Regions from separate parts of the Homo sapiens genome. Here region 1 is linked to region 2. The links come from fine-mapping of genetic effects on gene expression. A gene starts in region 2. The other region holds a variant in brackets. All regions are shown on one strand. Distances are from middle to middle.

Region 1 (9,135 bases), 780 kb after region 2:
CCAGGATTCACTAGCAACAATAATATTTATTTATTTATTTTTGAGACAGAGTCTCAGTCTGTGGCCCAGGCTGGAGTGCAGTGGCATGGTCTTGGCTCACTGCAACCTCCGCCTCCTGGGTTCAAGCAATTCTCTTGCCTCAGCCTCCTGAATAGCTGGTATTACAGGTGCACACCACCACACCTGGCTAATTTTTTTTTTTTTTTTTTTGGTATTTTTTAGTAGAGATGGGGTTTCGCCATGTTGGCCAGGCTGGTCTTGAACTCCTGATCTCAAGTGATCTGCCTGCCTAGGCCTCCTAAAATGCTTGGATTACAGGTGTGAGCTACCATGCCTGGCCATTTTGTTTCCTTTTGTTTTTTTTCAAGTTACGAGGTGACATGGGTATAATAATTCATTGAAAAAAATGTAGTATGAGAGATAAAATATTAGTAAAAGGGGTTTCTAATTATAAGAAGGAAAATCCAACCTGTGTGTGTGTGGGGAACAGAGAATTATTCATTCACTCAGCAAATATTTGCTGAATGCTTACTAAGGGCTGTGTATGGGACCTAGAGATTAGAGAGATGTTACTGGCTCTTGGGACTTTTGATGGACAGGGAGTTTTAGGTGGGCTGAACATCAAGGAGGGCATTCCAGAAGATTGAAGGTCCAATGGCAAAGGTACAGAGGGAAGAATAAATGAAGTGGAAGATTTATTCATGGGGCAGCTGGAAGTGATGCTGCAGAAGAGAAATGAGCTATTATAGGGTTAATGTTGGGCTTTACAAATAAGGCAGAGGAGTTAATCTAGTAAGTCCCCTTTCCCAAGGCAGAAATGTTAGCATCATAATTTAGAAGGTATCTGTCAGAAGATGATGGAATGAAAACCTTGGCATTCATGAAAAGGAATGAGATCATGTCCTTTGCAGGAACATGGATGGAGCTGGAGGCCATTATCCTTAGCAAACTGACATAGGAACAGAAAACCAAATACTGCATGTTCTCACTTATAAGTGGGAGCCAAATGGTGAGAACACATGGACACATAAGGGGGAAGAAAGACACTGGGGACTTTTGGAGGGTGAAGGGTAGGAGGAGGGAGAGGATCAAGAAAAATACCTAAAGGGTACTAGACTTAATACCTGGGTGATGAAAAAGCTGCACAACAAACCCCTATGACACAAGTTTCCCTATGTAGCACACCAGCATTTGTACTCTTTTTATTTTAAAATAAAAGTTTTAAAAAAACCTTGGCATTCTAAGAGTTAACTTATTTATATCAAACACACTACACTCACCAGCCCATAAGATAACCAAGCTATAACACACACTTGGTCATCTTCTCTTAAAAAAATACTTTAAAATACAAAATAGTCATCCTTGTAAGGAATTAGAAATACTTGAGGAAAATTGTAAAATACTATACATATAATTAAGCCTGTTGGCATTAACTTCAATTTAAAGGAGTTCATAAAAACAAAATCAGTTCTTACTTTTTTTTTATGTATTTATTAATTTTTTTTAGAGGCAAGATTTCACTCTGTCACCCAGACTGGAGTGCAGTGGCACAAACATAGCTCACTGAAGCCTCAAACTCCTGGGCTCAAGAGATCCTTCTGCTTCAGCCTCCTGAGTAGCTGGGACTTCAGGTATGTGTCAGAATGCCTGGCTAATTTAATTTTTATGTATTTATGTATTTATTTATTTATTTATTTATTTATTTATTTATTTTTTAAGAGATGGTGTCTCACTATGTTGCCCAAGTTAGTCTGGAACTCCTGACTTCAAGTGATCCTCTTGTCTTGGCCTCCCAACATGCTGGGATTACATGAGCCAGTATGCCTAGCCTTAATATTTCTTTTTTTAAAAAGGCACTTGTATTGTCTAACACCTATGGCTGGAGAATGAACATTTGGTCAAGTTTTGACCTCAGAATATAAGTGTCTATCTAGTTAGATCAAGATGGGCATCACATTTCAGGAGACTGGTGGGTTTCTTCTAGATGAAAAGGTCCTTGGAGACCCTCTATTCTAACTGTCTACATCCCAGAGGAGAGACTTGTCCATCAGAGAGCACCTGCCATCCTCCCAGATTCAGGCAGTTACCTGGAGAGCAGAATCGGGCCACTCCTGGAGCCCACCTGTTGCTTGCATAGTCCAAGACAGTTGAGTTCCAAACTCGAGCATTTAAAATATCAAATTCTGAGGAGATATCAAATTCTGAGGAGAATTTCCTCAGAGTTTCGTGTGCCACAAAGTGCCCTCCTGAGAATGGACATCAGTATTTCCCAAAACCTCCCCCAGAAGCTCCTGGGCTGGTTATTTTTAAAAAGTACAGATTTATAGGACCCCGCACATGCCTAAAGAATCAGAACCCTGGAACATGGACTAGAAATCTGTATTTTCACGAGCATGTGATTTTTATTTACACTCAAGTTTGATGACCACTAGCCTAGGACAAGTGCAGATTTTTGCAGTTGCCTCTGACAATTAGTCCTCTCCCTAACACCCTGCTGGGTCTCCCAGCTGACTCTCCTGTGGCCTTACTTTCTGTCCCTGACTCTTCATCTTTTGACTGCCTGAGCGTTTTTCCTCTTCCTCTTCTCTCCCCTTCTCTTTGCTGCTCTTTTGTGCTTTCATTATTTGTCTCTCTTTTCTTCTTTCTCTGTTTTTTATTTCCTCTTTCCCTTGCTCTCTGTCCCACCCAGCCCATTCCAAAGTGGTGCTGGGATATGCAGGAGGAGCCAAAGGCAATGAGTCGAGCCCAGGTGCTCAGAGAGCTGAGTTCTGATCAGAGAATGCAGTTCAGAACACACCTGGGGGGCTCAGAGACCCCGAAGCTAGACTGCAAGGATATGGAGAGCTCAGCTCAGAGGATGGATGGGGTGGTGGGGAGAGGGAAGGGTGCAGATTTATGACATGGGAAATTCCCTGAGGAAGCAGATCAAGGAGCCCAAGGCACTGGCAAAGCAGGGCAGGGAGCCCCATGAGCACCTGTCCCCTACCTTCCCTGTGACCTGGGTGTGGGTGAGCTAATAAGCTACTGGGAAGCAGGTGTACACTGTTGCATAGACACTCCCCCACACCTTCTCCTGAGCACTTACTCTGAGAAACTTTGTGTGTCCTCCATTTGGCAGACTTGAGACTTTTTAAGAAAACAGTTAATATATCTTACAGGTGAGGAATCTTAATCCTGCAGGAAGGGAGGCTTTCCCCAGATGTCCCTCACACAAAGATACAGAAGTCAGAATTCCCAGTGGGAACGTATCTTGGGCAAGATTGAGAAACAGTCAAAGCTTTGTCCAGTATAACCTAACAAGCTGGCATATCAGCATTTATACTTGGTGTCCGAGCATATGCATGTGTGCACTTACACTCTGGCACAGAGAAAGCACTCAGTGCATTTTCGGTATTATTTTTTATTATTAGGAAATCGTCTTGTATTTGCTGTATTGCCTGTATTTATCATGATTTCCCTTTAAGGTAGGTTATAGATTTGGCCTTTTGGATGTCTCACAAGGAGGTCTTTGTGGCAGAACACCTGGAAGGATGATTGCAGGCAATTTCTCCCTCCCCTGGAGAGCACAGATGCCACCCTGTTGGGTGCGGACTGGGTTCTTAGGAGGCCCAGGAAGTGCTGTTGCTTCTAAACCCTCTGTTTGGCGGTTTCCTGCACCTGTTGCAGGAGGTGTGGCACATTTCATAAGCTCCAGGGGGCAGGACGGCACCTGGGAGAGCTCCTGAAGGGTCCTCACCTGGGAGCTCTCATTTGCCCGGTACTCCCACCCCCAAACAGTGCTGTCTGTGAGAAGGTGCATCAGTGGATGGGTGTCATGGCACCTGAGGCCTGAACTTGGGGTGACTCTCCTTTCTTGTTGGTCTGAATAAGGCAGAAACCAACTCCATTTCCATATTTCCTTTCTTTGAATTCCCAGTATTCCCCTCACCCCAGATAGCTGTATTCTTTAAGACTGGGACAGCCCTGGGAGTAGGGGCTGCCCTGTTGTCCCTGCCCCACCTTCCAGGGCAGAGAATTTTACTAGACATTTCTTGCAGATGCTGTCTCTGAATTTGAGTCGGAGTTTCCTGACCCTTTGCAAGCTGCATTTTAGAATCAGAGGGTATGTGGCCTTAGCAAACCTTGAGACCCATCCTCTCCTTCTACCTTTCTCCACCACCACTCAGCATCACTCATCACCCCTTGTGCTTCCATCCTTGCTTGCTTTTCTTCATGCTCTCTTCTCCACTTGAAATATTCTTGTTCACTTTCTTTTCTGTTCATCTTCCAGTCAAGGCCCAGCTCAGAATAAATTTCAGAAGCTTTCCCTGTCTCCCTCTGCTCACTGCCCTCTCCATCCAAGCAGAAAGAACCTGCCTGTCTTCTGTGATCTGCTGCCATTGCACACACCCCTGTGACGTTCTCCTATTGCCTCATTAGATGTTTACACCTGTGCCTCCCCCAGGTAGGACTGGGGTGGGGTTGAATGAGAGCTCCATAGGTCTTTTAATGGTGTCCCCAAGGCCAGCCTCAGGGCTTCAACACAGTGAGCTCTCAGGAATGGCTGCATTTTATTCTGACTGTGTTTCCAGAATCCCAGTCCTCTCTCTCTCACTGACCCCGAAGATAAGCATTGGAAAGGGGAGCTTTGGGGAAATGAATCTGCCCTGTCATCTGCGTATAGAGCTAATCTTAAATCCCAACTGCCAAATGGATCCTGAGGTGTCAGAAACTCTCCCGAGATAAGGGGGCTTCTAGCAACCATCTGCATTCTGGACCCAGGTATGTTGTGTTTGTAATCTCATTCACTCACTCGTTCATTCTTCCATGCCTCCCCTGATCCCCTTCCTGAAGTAAGAGCCTTCTGTTGATGTCGATGAAAGAACCCTGTTTATTTTCTTCAACTGAGAGTCTAACACACTGTGCCCTGGGCAAGGTTGAGAATCAGCCAAAGCTTGTCTTCTTTGTCCAATATAATCTAATAAATGGGTGTGTAACCACTTGTACTTTGTGTACATGTGTGTGTGTGGGTGTGGGTGTGG[GTGTGGA/A]CCTGATATTCTGGCACAGAGTGAGCACTCTCAAATATTAATCTACAATTATTTCTCTACTACTAATAGATCATGATCTATAATGACTCAATAATCTATAATAATAATAAATCTGTAATTATAATTATCTACAATTATTTATCTACTTGGTATTGTCTGTCTCACCCCTATTAGGATACAGACTCCTTGAGGTGACAGATTCATACTCTCAGGCCTTTTTACTCTTGTACCCTCGGCACCAAGTACAGTGCCTGGTCCAATATTTGTGGAATGAATAAATGAATGACCAGACTTTCATTTATTTGCACTATGTCTTTGTGTGTCAGACTTGGGGTTAGGGACAGGAGATACACAAGAAATAAGACATAGCTTTTATTTTTCAATAGCCTCATTTGCAAGTGGGGGAGGCAAGTTACAGTTACAGTGCACAGTGATAACTAAGGATATAGCAGAATACAGGGGTTACGAGAGGATGGAGGACCAGTTCAGACTAAGGAGGAGGTGGATGTCCGGGAAGTTTGATATTTGGGTTGAGTCCTGGAAGGGAGGAAAAGTTGGCCAGGCAAATGAGGTTGGCAAGGACATTCTAGGGAGATGAGGCCATGTGTACAAAAGCCCAGTGAGAATGGAAGATGAAAGGATGTGGGGCAGTAGCTGGAGCCTGGTGTGCAAGGGAGCCCCAGGACGAGCTGGCCCCTTGGCAGGGCAGTTGGCTGTCCCTGCATGGTCGAGTGCTGGGGCTTTACTTCCTCTGGCTCTGGGCCAGCATGCAGACTTCAAGGTGGGGAGCAGCCTGCCACAAGAAAGTAAAATGTTGCATCCCTCGATGACCCCAGTTCCTGGCTCCACATGTTTCTGTTTGCTTTATTCTGGGGAGGCAGAAGAGAGACAGGTTTGGGGTAATCCTGCCCAGTGACCTCTGGGTTGAGAAGTGTAGAGAGCACCAGGCTCTCTCTGTAGGGTGAAACGCTCTGAGAAAGCCATTTAGGGAAGGGCCATGGCTGCTGTTTTGAGAACTGTGCTGTTTGCAGCAGGAGTAGGAGAAAGGGAGAAGAAGGACACAGGAACTTTGGGAAGCACCCTTTCAAGACTCTGTGGGTCCCATAGCTAGTGCATTGTGAGGTTTGAGATGCCAGGGAGTCAGGGTGATAGCCAGCCTGGCTTTTCTCTGCCTCCTTTTCTTCCTACTTTCTTCCTTTAATTAATTCTTATAGAGTGTCTGTTGCATGCAGGGTAGTGTTCCAGTCACTGAATATTTGACATTGAGCAAAGCAGTCAAAGTCCATTGCTTTTTGGGAGAGGGGATCAGGGATGGCCTCACTGAAACAGGGACATTTGAGCAGAAACCTGAATGAATCAAGGGAGACCTGTGGGTCTCTGGGCAAAGTGTGCAACTGTTAAACAAAGGTGTTGCACTCTAAGCAGGTATCTGGTTTAGCAGGGAGAAGACGGCTGAAAATAATCTCCCACTCCACAAGTGACAGAGAAATCTAATAGAGTGGGGATAATATTTAGAGAAAATAATTGAGCATTTTTCTCTTTTTGCAATCCCTTGCCATCCTTGAACTTACCCTCTATTCATTTAGTAACCTGATTGTATCAGGTGAGATTTCAACAGTTGAGATTGTATCAGTTGAGGTGTCCACCTATTGACAGTAATGAGTTACATTCCTGGCTTTCGTATTCCAAAATAGATTGCTTTATTCTTATAATTTTCCTGTAAAGTAGGTATAATTACGTCCATTTCTGAGGTAGGAATCAGGGCTTAGATATTCTTAAACTTGAAGCAGAAACAGTTATCTTAAGAGCTGAGGTTTTGATTTGCAAGAGTCAAATCCCTTTTAATAATCTGTTTGAAACCAGCAGATAGAGAAATGCTGAGCCAGCAAAAGCCCTGCTCCCTCAGAGACCAGTTCAGGGTGGCTGGGTGGGGAGAGAGGAGAGTTAGTTAGATGGGAACAGGAGACCCCAGAGCCAAGTTCGGTGGCTGTGGAAGGGGCCTCTGAGTCTGGCCTCCCACTCTGGGATGAAACGACGTGAGGCGCTAGGAATCTGAGAGCCAAGGCCACCTTTTGCTGTAGGAGGTGGCCACCATGCCTCTGGAGGTGGAGTAGAGGGAGAGAGAGGGCTGTATGGGTCTTGGTAGCTGGGGAGATACAGCCCTTCTGAGTCTCCCTCCTCCTGTCTCGATGGCACATCAGGAGGAAGGGCCCAAATAATCTCCTGGGTGGTTAAGAAGGGCTCAAAGTTAACCAAGTGATGGGCTGTATACTTTGAAACCTGGATGAGGCAGAAACAGAGAGACCCAGATGCACCAAGGGCTAAAATCCAAGAGTCTTAGATTTTCCAGCAAGTGCTGGTGGGGACAGGTGTCCATGAATGAATGAGGGTAGCATGGATGGCTGCCAACAAGCAGAGGTCCCATGTGTCCCAGGCCATCATGCCATGCAGACCCCTAGAATGTAGATGCCACCTAAGGGTGAGGAAGATGGGGGAGCGGAATATGGAAATGATCATGTTTAAATTTGAAGTGACCAGTGTTTTTACCTCAGGGGACGTGATCAAGTTTCTGCCAATAGGCAGAATTGGTGCATAAAACAGAAGTTGAGTTACAGAAGAGTAAAGAAAGTTATTATCGTTATTATTTTGCACATTTGGATCATGTAACTTGCAAATTGAGTATTTTCAGCAGCCATACTAATGTTGATTAGGTAGCAAGCAGATATGCAAAGAGCTATCTGGGAGATTTTCCAGCTAAAAATCACAATTATCAGTTGAGTCTTATGAACCCAGAAAATGTGGTAAACTCTCCTCAAAAGAAAGACGTGAGAAATTCCTTAACTTAAAAGCCTGTGGTTCAAAGAAGGGCTGAGAAGTCTGTCTCCTCCTTGCCTTTCTAGAAATATTGCAGTTAGCATGGCATCTCATCTTACTCAAGCAGCCTGCCCAGTCTAGAGTCTTCGAAATTCTCGGCACAGGCTCCTGTGTGATGCTCTCTGGGAATGTTGACATTCTCAGGGGAATGTCTATGCCAGGGGTTTTGGAATAAGGCACAGGGGAAGTTTCTGGGCTAGAATGGAGTGTGGTCTGAGAGGCCAGGTAGGGTGTAAAAAAAGAGAATTTAGAATTAGGTTTTGGCTTTCCTGTTTCCTGGCTCTGTGACCTTTGTAAAGTTACTTTACCTTTCTAAGCTTCTGGTCAATCATCTTGAACATGGACATTATGCCTATTTTTATAGAGATACTATAAAAATAAAATGACGTAATATATTCGTTTGCCAGGGCTACCATAACAAAATACCACAGACTGGGTGGCTTCAGCAACAGAAATTTATATTCTCATAGTTCTGGGGGCTGGGAGCCCAAGAAACAAAGTGTTGGCAGGTGTGATGTCTTCTGAGGCCTCTCTCCTCAGGTTGCATAAGTCCACTTTCTCACTGTGTCCTCACATGGCTGCTCCTCGGACTGTGTGTTGTCTATGTCCTAATCTTATAAGGACACCAGTCATATTGGATTAGGGCCCACCCATATGGCTGCATTTTACTTAATTACTTCTTTAAAGGCCCCATCTCCAAATACAGTCACATTCCCAGTTACTGGGCATCAGAGCGTCCACGTACAGAGATGGAGGGCTCACAGTTCAGCCCATGGCAGGTAGCATATGAAAGGGCTCAGCACACACGAGGTGCTTAGTCAATGTTAGCTCCCCTCACCATTTCTTCAGGCTGTAGTATGAGATTCAAACTATTAATGACATTTACTCTAAAGCGATGTTCACCTCTTAGGCCGCCTGTGGGCAAGGGGCTTGGAGGCAACACAATGAACAAAGGAGATTTAATAGAGCCAGAATATTTAATTCTGCTGCCACTTTTGAGAAATTTGAACTTGTATCAAACTCATAATTTCTCTGATTCAGTTCTGACAATAATTAGCCAACAGGGTGAGTATCAAATTTATAACAAAGTAATAGATCCGAAAGTGCCAGCACATTACTTGACTTCTGTTAAATGCTTCATAAATATTTCTTTAGTTGGGCACAGAGGCCTTTGGTAAAGTACACAGTGTTAGATATATGTGAGATATTATGTTCACTTGCTCCTCTGGCCTCT
Region 2 (9,135 bases):
TCTCGCTCGGGGCCAAGTGGGGTGGCTCACACCTGTAATCCCAGCACTTTGGGAGACCTAGATGGGCGAACAAGAGGTCAGGAGTTGAAGACCAGCCTGGCCAGTATGGTGAGAACCCGTCTCTACTTAAAATACAAAATAATTAGCTGGGCATGGTGGCGCACACCTGTAATCCCAGCTGCTCAGGAGGCTGAGGCAGGAGAATCACTTGAAACTGGGAGGCAGAGGTTGCAGTGAGCCAAGATCGCGCCATTGCACTCCAGCATAGGCGAGACTCCGTCTCAAAAAAAAAAAAAAAGAGAGACGGTCTTGCTGTCACCCAGGATGGAGTGCGGTGACATGATCACACCTCACTGCAGCCTCAAGCTCCTGGGCTAAAGTGATCCTCCCATACCAGCCTCTCAAGGAGCTGGGATTAGAGATGCACACCACCATGCCCAGTTTGTACTTCCGATTTCTATTACAAGAAATTTTTCTTTCCTCAACATTTCTATTGTACTTAATTTATACCTAAGTCACTCATCACCTTCTATCTTTTTTCATATTACTTACATACCTATCTTACCAACTTTATTTGACTGAAATTCTTCTGCACATAGCAGCTTACAAATACACGACAATAAATTCTTCATATACACCATCAAGAATAATTGTTAGAATAATTGTTAGAAATGTTTTACTGTAACAACACCATAAGAATCATCAAAGAATGTTAATAAGAAAAATGAATAACCCGGCCGGGCACGGTGGCTCACGCCTGTAGTCCCAGCACTTTGGGAGGCTGAGGCAGGCGGATCACGAGGTCAGGAGTTCGAGACCAGCCTGGCCAACATGGTGAAACCATCTCTACTAAAGATACAAAAAATTAGCCGGGCATGGTGGCACGTGCCTGTAATCTCAGCTACTCGGGAGGCTGAGGAAGGAGAATCACTTGAACCTGGCTGCTGTGAGCTGAGATCGCACCACTGCACTCCAGCCTGGGTGACAGGGTGAGACTCCGTCTCAAAACAAACAAACAAACAAAAAAAAACCCATAGTCCTACCACAGTAATACAAGAATTCATTCCTCTTCCGAAATCTTATTTTTTACAGCAGCAATCAAAATGAGGTCATCATTAACTCAAATTTGAGTTCAGTAGGGTAGAATTGGCCTCATGAAAAAATTTCAGTAAAGCTCAAATAATTACCAGCTGTTCCAAAATTAGTCAGTTATGATTATGCAGACATGCAGGTAAGGCCTGGAAAATAATACGTAAAATGCAAAACATGAAAAAGATTTTGGGGGGTAATGGCATTGTAGATTTATTGCAAATTTTTCATTTGTTAAAATAGTGAAGCTAAAATACTACCATTAAGCTGAAAAAAAGTATTGTCTAATTAGACTCCCAAGTATTTTTAAAACATGAAATATTTTTAGCCCTTTAATGAATGCTTACTATGTGTCAGGCACTGTTCTAGGTGCTGAGGGTAACGCTGTGAAGAAAATCAACATCCTGCCTTTATGAACTTTGCAACATAATGTGTAGAAGTGGAAAATATACAAAGCAAACAAGAGCATTTCTTTTAATGGTAATGTGCTTTTTAGAAAACTGAACAGGCCAATGTGATACAAGTGTAAGACTGCGTTTGGGGGAACTGCCTAAGATTGAAGGCTCTGAAAAAGCCCCTCTAAGGAAGTGACATTTGGGCCAAGACATAAACATGAAATATGCAAAAGGCTGAGAGAACAAATCAGGCTGAGCAAAAAGATCTTGAGGTAGGTGAGCCTAATGTATTCATGAACAGAGTGTAGTTAATTAACTAGGTATGAGAGAAGGGCAAGGCTTAGATCACCTGGAACCTTGAAGGTAAAGTGGTTTAAAAAGGGAAATGACGAGATCTATGTTTTTCCCCTCTTAACTTTTTTGGAATAATGAATTATGAGTAGAAACAAGGAAACTATTAATACTCCAAGTGAGAGGTGATAAGGGTTTGGAATCAGAGTGGTAGCAATGAGGATGGAGATAAACGGATTGATTCAAGACATAGTTTGGAATCAGAAACAATAGAACTTACTGATCGGGTGTGTGAGACAGAGAGGATTCAAGGTTTCAGTTTGTGAAACCATTTACTCAGATGAAGAAAACTAGAGGAAGTTTGGGCTTTTTTGAATATGTCGTTTGAAGTGCAAAGCTAGGTGGGAATGTTGACTTTCAACTTAATGAAGTCTCTCTATAAGCTTGTGGGGAAGAAGAGGAATCACGTTCCGTGTCTCTGTTCTCCCAAAGCCTAACACCATGTCTCACACACATTATGCACGCAGTTTAAGTGTTTTTGAATGTTTTGAGGGTGGCTATTTGTTTTCAAGTTGAAACTCCTTGAAGACGGCAGTTCTGTACCTACACAAAAACTAAAAAAGGGGGCTTTGGCACCTTCTGAGATTTTGCTAATGCCTAGGTGAATGACTTCTATGTGATTACATAGGGCTTTAGCTGCACAATATTTGTGCAGTATTGAGATTCTCTCAAGTGAAGGTTACTTTTTTTCTTTTGAGTGTAATTGTATAAAGCTGGGCTCAAATGTTGTGAAAAAGATACATATACATATGGTTTACCATGAAAGGCTAGGATTCCAGGCACATTTACAACCACAAAGGCATGAGACCAATCAAGAATGTGCTGCACCCGGACGAAGAAGGCGCTAAGCGCCTCAAATCCAACAGTTGAAAGCCAACAACAAGCGGAAGAACTCTTTCAGAAAGACTCCAGCCTGGGTGAGAGGAGTGAGAACTTGTCAAAAAAAAAGAAAGAAAGAAGAAAAAGAGGTCTGAGAGGGGAAGGAGGAAAATCATTTTTATTTACTGAACATCTTTTAAAGATTTCACACCACAGAACTATGCCCTTTAATTCTTATAACGCTAAGAAAGCCCTTATTCATATTCACCACCCTTTTTACGGGAGACAAAAGCTCAGAGTATCTCGCTTTACCTCAAACTATTAAGAGCCAGAGCTATCGTCATACCGCAGGTCTCAGTCCTTGCCTCCCCCATTATCCACTAGCAAAAGTATTTACACTTAATTGCAAGCAACGAGTACAGAAAAACTGAAAGAAGGAATGGAAGAAAACGCCACATCCACTGCTAAAACCTTGGGTCAGAACACGTCCGCGAGGCTTTCCAGGGCCAAAGCCTTACTTAAATCTACCACGGTTGTCGCTTCCCCTCCAGTCCCTCACTTTTCATCCCACTCACTGACAAAGAAAAGAGGGGGTTCAGGCCGCGGTAATATAACCCAGCCTGGCGGTGGGTCTGAAGGGACAGAAGAGAAAGGTTCGCGACCCGCCCACACCCTTCTCTAGGTAGAAGTGACAACCAAGGAAGGATATGAGGAGTCGGGGCAGGACGGACGGCAGTTCCCGGCGGCATAGCTCCTCTGGCCAGCTACTTAATTCTTCCAGGGGAACCGCGCTAGCTGGGACCGCACCTTCCTGAGACATACTTTCGTCAAACAGGAGAGCTTCAAACCAGACCCGCCAAAGCCCAGACCGGAAACTCGCAGTCCCGCCAACCCTTGCGCGCTCTCCGCCGGCTCCAAAACCATAGAGAGGAGGGCGGCTGGTTTCTTGGTGAGCCCGGGTCCCTCAAGGCCGGAAAGAAAGTCGGGCTTCTCTAGCCCCTGGAGGACTCGACTCACTGGTGCGCGATTTAGGTCCGGAGGAGGCGTTGTGAGGTGAGCTTTTTCAGAAGCGCGATCCCAGGACACGTCGGGAAGCAAGCATCCCCAGGTCTGGATCACTGTAAACATTACATTCAAATGGGGAGGTGAGGGCCAGAAGTCCCCACTTCTGGGGTCGGATTTGTTCCGGGACCTGCAGCCGGAAGTGACTCCAAGCCTTGCAGCGTGATGGGAGAGGAAAGAGGCGCGTTCCTAGCCGCGGGACTGGGTGACCCGCCTCTCCCCCAAATTGTAAATCTTGTATAAAGGGAACAAAGATCCCACTTGCCAGAACTGTGAAAATTGAGGCAGATGGTATAGTGTCTAGCGCAGTAGATAGAAGATTCTCAATAAAGTTGCTTCTTATTTCTACAGGTCTCTCCAAACTACTGCAGTGCCCTAGTTTGCGTTTGCTCTGCCACCGAATTAGTCTTTACTAATTATTGCCAAATTACCCCCACTTCTATACACTTAGGGCTGCTGTTCTCGACTAAATGTTTGGAGTGAAGTCTTGGATGAATTTACACACACCAGGCCATACCTATGCATGTTTTTAAAGGGACGCTGACTTACCAAAATAAAATACTGCACCTCTTCTGTAAAAGACAGAAGTGAAGTTATTCTGGAAGCTTAGGGGGTGAATATGGTTGGACACAAATCAAGACAGCTGAAAGACAGCAAGTAGCTAGGCTGTCCTGTCTGAATATCTTGGACTTTATGTTTGTCCAGGTGGTAGTGGTGGTGGTTGCTGTTGTTCTTCTGTTTGTTTTTATAGTTGATTTTCTTCTCCCACTTTGGAACCCTTAAGGTGTGTATGAGTGTCCAAATCTCTTATCTCTCTCTCTTCCCCACAACTTTTTAAGAAAAAGCAGCTGTATGGTGGGACAGGGAGGGGTGGGGGTGGCTGTTTAATATTACACTTTAGTGAAATGTGCCATTTTGCTTTAATCATCATTTTCTTTCTTTTTTTTTTTTTTTTCTTTCCAGAGCTGCTTGGAAAGAGGACCAAAGACGTCTAAAAAGTCATTTGGAAATATCTCTAAATATTTGTTACCATGTATAAGCTGCTAAAGAGAAATTGGGCCCAACAAAACTAATTGAATAATTGAGGCAGATTTGTGTGTATCATCAAATTCTATCCAGAAGTTGAAGAATCTGAATTTAAAGATTGTGTGCATTTAATAAGAGGATGACCTTTCAGTTTAATTTCACTATAGAAGACCATCTGGAAAATGAATTAACACCCATTAGAGATGGAGCTTTGACCCTGGATTCCTCAAAAGAGCTGTCAGTCTCAGAAAGTCAAAAAGGAGAAGAGAGGGACAGAAAATGTTCTGCAGAACAATTTGACTTGCCTCAGGATCACTTGTGGGAACATAAGTCAATGGAAAATGCAGCTCCCTCTCAAGACACAGACAGTCCACTCAGTGCAGCCAGCAGTTCAAGGAACTTGGAGCCACATGGAAAACAGCCCTCCTTGAGAGCTGCCAAAGAGCATGCTATGCCTAAAGATTTAAAGAAGATGTTAGAAAATAAAGTCATAGAAACATTACCAGGTTTCCAGCATGTTAAGTTATCAGTAGTGAAAACCATCTTGTTGAAAGAGAACTTCCCTGGAGAAAACATAGTTTCAAAAAGCTTTTCTTCTCACTCTGATCTGATTACAGGTGTTTATGAGGGAGGCTTAAAAATCTGGGAATGTACCTTTGACCTCCTGGCTTATTTCACAAAGGCCAAAGTGAAATTTGCTGGGAAAAAAGTCTTGGATCTTGGTTGTGGATCAGGTTTACTAGGTATAACTGCATTCAAGGGAGGGTCCAAAGAAATTCACTTTCAAGATTATAACAGTATGGTGATTGATGAAGTAACCTTACCTAATGTAGTAGCTAACTCCACTTTGGAAGATGAAGAAAATGATGTAAATGAGCCAGATGTGAAAAGATGCAGGAAACCAAAAGTAACACAACTATATAAATGCCGATTTTTTTCTGGTGAGTGGTCTGAGTTTTGTAAGCTTGTACTAAGTAGTGAAAAACTTTTTGTAAAATATGATCTCATTCTCACCTCAGAAACCATTTACAACCCAGATTATTATAGTAATTTGCACCAGACTTTCCTTAGACTGTTAAGTAAAAATGGACGTGTACTTTTGGCCAGCAAAGCACATTATTTTGGTGTAGGTGGAGGTGTTCATCTCTTTCAGAAGTTTGTAGAAGAAAGAGATGTTTTTAAGACCAGAATACTCAAAATAATTGATGAAGGATTGAAGAGGTTCATAATTGAAATAACTTTTAAGTTTCCTGGTTAATTAACATTCACTGAGTATCCAAAATGAAATAAACAGAAGGACCAAAAATTTGAGTGTTTGATTTCTGTTTTGCTATTATTTTTTCTGAAATTTTGATGTTGTTTGTTTAGTTTTGTTTATCCAAATTGTAAGTGAGCTATGTTACCAGTCTTTTACTCACTAGGTGAAACTGAGAAGGTATCCTCGTGCATTTGATGAGATCTCCTGGGAAATCATTTTGTAAGAAAATCCGGTATTCTCCATCTTCATTCTATTTGACCTTTTACCACCTTTGACGTTACATGAAATTGTTCCCAGGAAATCCTGCCATTTCTTCTCTCAAGTCTGTGAATTTCTTCCCAGTCTTCGTTAGTTCCTTGTTCACATTAATATATATCACTAAATATTAGGTTGGGGCCTTATGTAAATAGGAAGAGGTTTTTGTTTCGTTTTGTTTTTATATTCATTTACCTTGTATAGTAAGGATCAGAATGCTGAGAATTTAACTAAATTCACATGGAGATGAGGAAACAAAGGGAATCTGTGACAGAGTATAAAAGTAATACAGAGAACTTGTACTACTTGAGGTTTACCCCTTATAGCCAAGTAAAAGATCCTGCGGTCTTGGTAGGAGGAAAAAGAATAAGAAAGGAGAATTCCAGATTTGGGGGAGTATAGACTTACCAGTTGTTAAATAGTAGGAAAGAAAGGAGAAAGTGTTTTGTTGATTCAAATGCAAAAATTTTCACGTTACCACATTGGGAATTGGGATCTGCCTTGCTCTCTATAAGAACAGTAAAACTGACAGCATTTTTTTCTCTCTTGGAAGTAGCTAAAATAATCGGACATCATGGATTCAATTGAATGTGATATTTACTGGACTTTGTATAGTATCTTGCATAATACTTAAAACCTTATGAGGTTTATGTCATCCCCATTTTAGTAGTGATCATAATAGCTAACTAGCATTTACTGTATACAGGGCAGAAGAGCTTTACATATGTTAACATTAAGTATTCATAACTGCCCTATAAGACTTCAAGAAGTTAATTGATTTGCTCCCAATCACATTTCTCACCTTGAACCAGCATCTGAAGGCTTTAAAATCTTTACACTCTTTCATCACCCAGTGGTCTCAACTCTACCAATGCCTATTTTCATCACAAATATTTCTTAGCACCCTCTTACTACGCTAAGATGAAAGTCATAGTTAAGGAAACTTACTTATATACATTATTAAAAAGCATATTCCTAGTTTATGTATAATTATATGTGATACTCATTCACAACTCTAATATGAAGAAAGTAATTTATAATCAAATAATTTATATCTCATCAGATACACATACAGATGTAGCTACACAGAAGACATGCAGCAGCCAGATGCTTATACCTAGCAACAGGGGTCCCTGATGCCTGCGCCGTGGACCAGTACTGGTCCGTGGCCTGTTAGGAACTGAGCTGCACGGCAGGAGGTGAGCGGTAGGCAAATGAGTATTACTGCCTGAGCTCTGTCTCCTGTCAGATCAGCAGCGGTGTTAGATTCTCATGGGAGTGCACACCCTATTGTGAACTGCATGTGTGAGGGATCTAGCTTGCGCACTCCTTGTGAGAATCTAATGCCTGATGATCTGAGGTGGAACAGTTTCATCCTGAAACCACTCCCCTGCCCAGCCCTTCATGGAAAAATTGTCTTCCACAAAACTGGTCCCTGGTGCCAAAAAGGTTGGGGACTGCTAACCTAGAGTACCATTACTGAAAATGCCACAGCTACAATTCCAGACTTACCTACTAGGTAAGGTAGAACAAATTGGCCTTGACAGCTGGATTGGGGAATTGAGGTACAAATCACTGGATAGAGGCTCATAATACATTAATTGGTTTCAATGATTTTGAGACAAATAGGTATCTCTCAATTCTCCAAGAGAATTAGACTTTTAATGAGGTCTCATCCAGGAGGCCCATTCAGGAACAGCAGAGACATAGCCTCTAACTAGGGGCTCAGGACACAATCTCATTTCCCAGGGAGAGGGTCCAGCAAGTGCAGAAAGGATCAAAGCAGAAGCCCAGTCATGGGAACTAGATAATTTGGGGCATTAAAGATAAATTTGGGGCCAGGCATGGTGGCTCACACCTGTAATCCCAGCACTTTGGGAGGCCAAGGCAGGCAGATCACCTGAGGTCAGGAGTTTGAGACCACCCTGACCAACATGGAGAAACCCCTTGTCTACTAAAAATACAAAATTAGGTGGGCGTGGTGGTGCATGCCAGTAATCCGAGCTATTAGAGAGGCTGGGACAAGAGAATCGTGAGAAGCACTTGAACCCAGGAGGCGGAGGTTGCAGTGAGCCGAGATCGCGCCATTGCCCTCCAGCCTAGGCAACAGGGAAAGACTCTCTCAACAAAAAAAGAGAAAAAAAAAAGATAAATGTGGGGGTATCAAACAGCCCAAAGGGAACACACCTACCCAAGATAGCTGGCAGCAAAAGGGACTTGAGACACAAATTATGGCTACAAATCCAGGAAACAGATACGCAGCTTTCTCATGTAACAGTATCATTTAATCATTTAAGGGTTATGATAACTTGGGTTAAAATTCAATTTCTCCATCTGCAAAACAAGATTTATAATATTATATCCCTAGCAGAGTTCCTTGAAGATTAAGAGTTAAGCATTTATCATGGTTCCTATCAAGTTTCCTATGTATAAGTGGAAATTATTATTTTTAATAATTCGTACTATTTATTCACCTATTTTCTGAACCAGATAGGAAGTCCTGCTCACTTTTGTTAAAAATGGTGTTTGTGCCTTTACAGTATACAAATTTCAGTTCAGAACCTGAAGAAACCACTAAGTTCTAAACCTCGCTCTGCCCACCATTAATCTCCACTCTCTCTCATCCCATTCCCCTCCCTACTCCTCACCTCTGCATTCCTAAATTGTCTTTTTTGGAAGCTTTGGTTGCAGATTATTTAGGATGAAGAAGAGTGCGTCTTGTAAATTTGCTTCTAAAACCCAGTCACATATGTGCTATGTTCTGCCTTTAAACTGCCCATTTCTCAGATGTGCCTGTCCTCTAAGTTCCAGTTTTCATGTCCCACAGACGACGTTCTGTCCATGGTTCAGAAACTCATGGAAATGTCTCTGTGCTGACTG

Alleles and levels. Positions count from the first base shown, and alleles are read on the strand shown. Sizes are in standard deviations (SD) of each study's normalised expression.
For the expression in neutrophils of the gene that starts at base 3,537 in region 2, GTGTGGA is the low allele of the variant in region 1 and A is the other (moderate effect, 0.66 SD a copy in Naranbhai 2015).

The links. PIP is the estimated chance that this variant, and not a neighbour inherited with it, causes the effect.
Region 1: its variant is fine-mapped to the expression of FIRRM in neutrophils (Naranbhai 2015, PIP 0.94).

What each region holds. Positions count from the first base shown.
Region 1 is chr1:169,013,439-169,022,573 of GRCh38, reverse strand. The region is part of intron 3 of LINC00970 (long intergenic non-protein coding RNA 970); the gene reads left to right. Among named protein-coding and RNA genes, the nearest start is that of LINC00970, 69 kb to the left of the region's middle. The variant GTGTGGA/A (reference allele first, on the strand shown) is at 5,022.
Region 2 is chr1:169,789,442-169,798,576 of GRCh38, reverse strand. FIRRM (FIGNL1 interacting regulator of recombination and mitosis) reads right to left here and starts at 3,537. Exons shown (of 25, transcript NM_001320047.2): 1 at 3,462-3,537; 2 at 2,594-2,748. METTL18 (methyltransferase 18, RPL3 N3(tau)-histidine) reads left to right here and starts at 3,670. Exons shown (of 2, transcript NM_033418.4): 1 at 3,670-3,762; 2 at 4,680-6,048. The coding sequence starts at 4,882. The coding sequence ends at 6,000. RefSeq lists an enhancer at 3,618-3,937.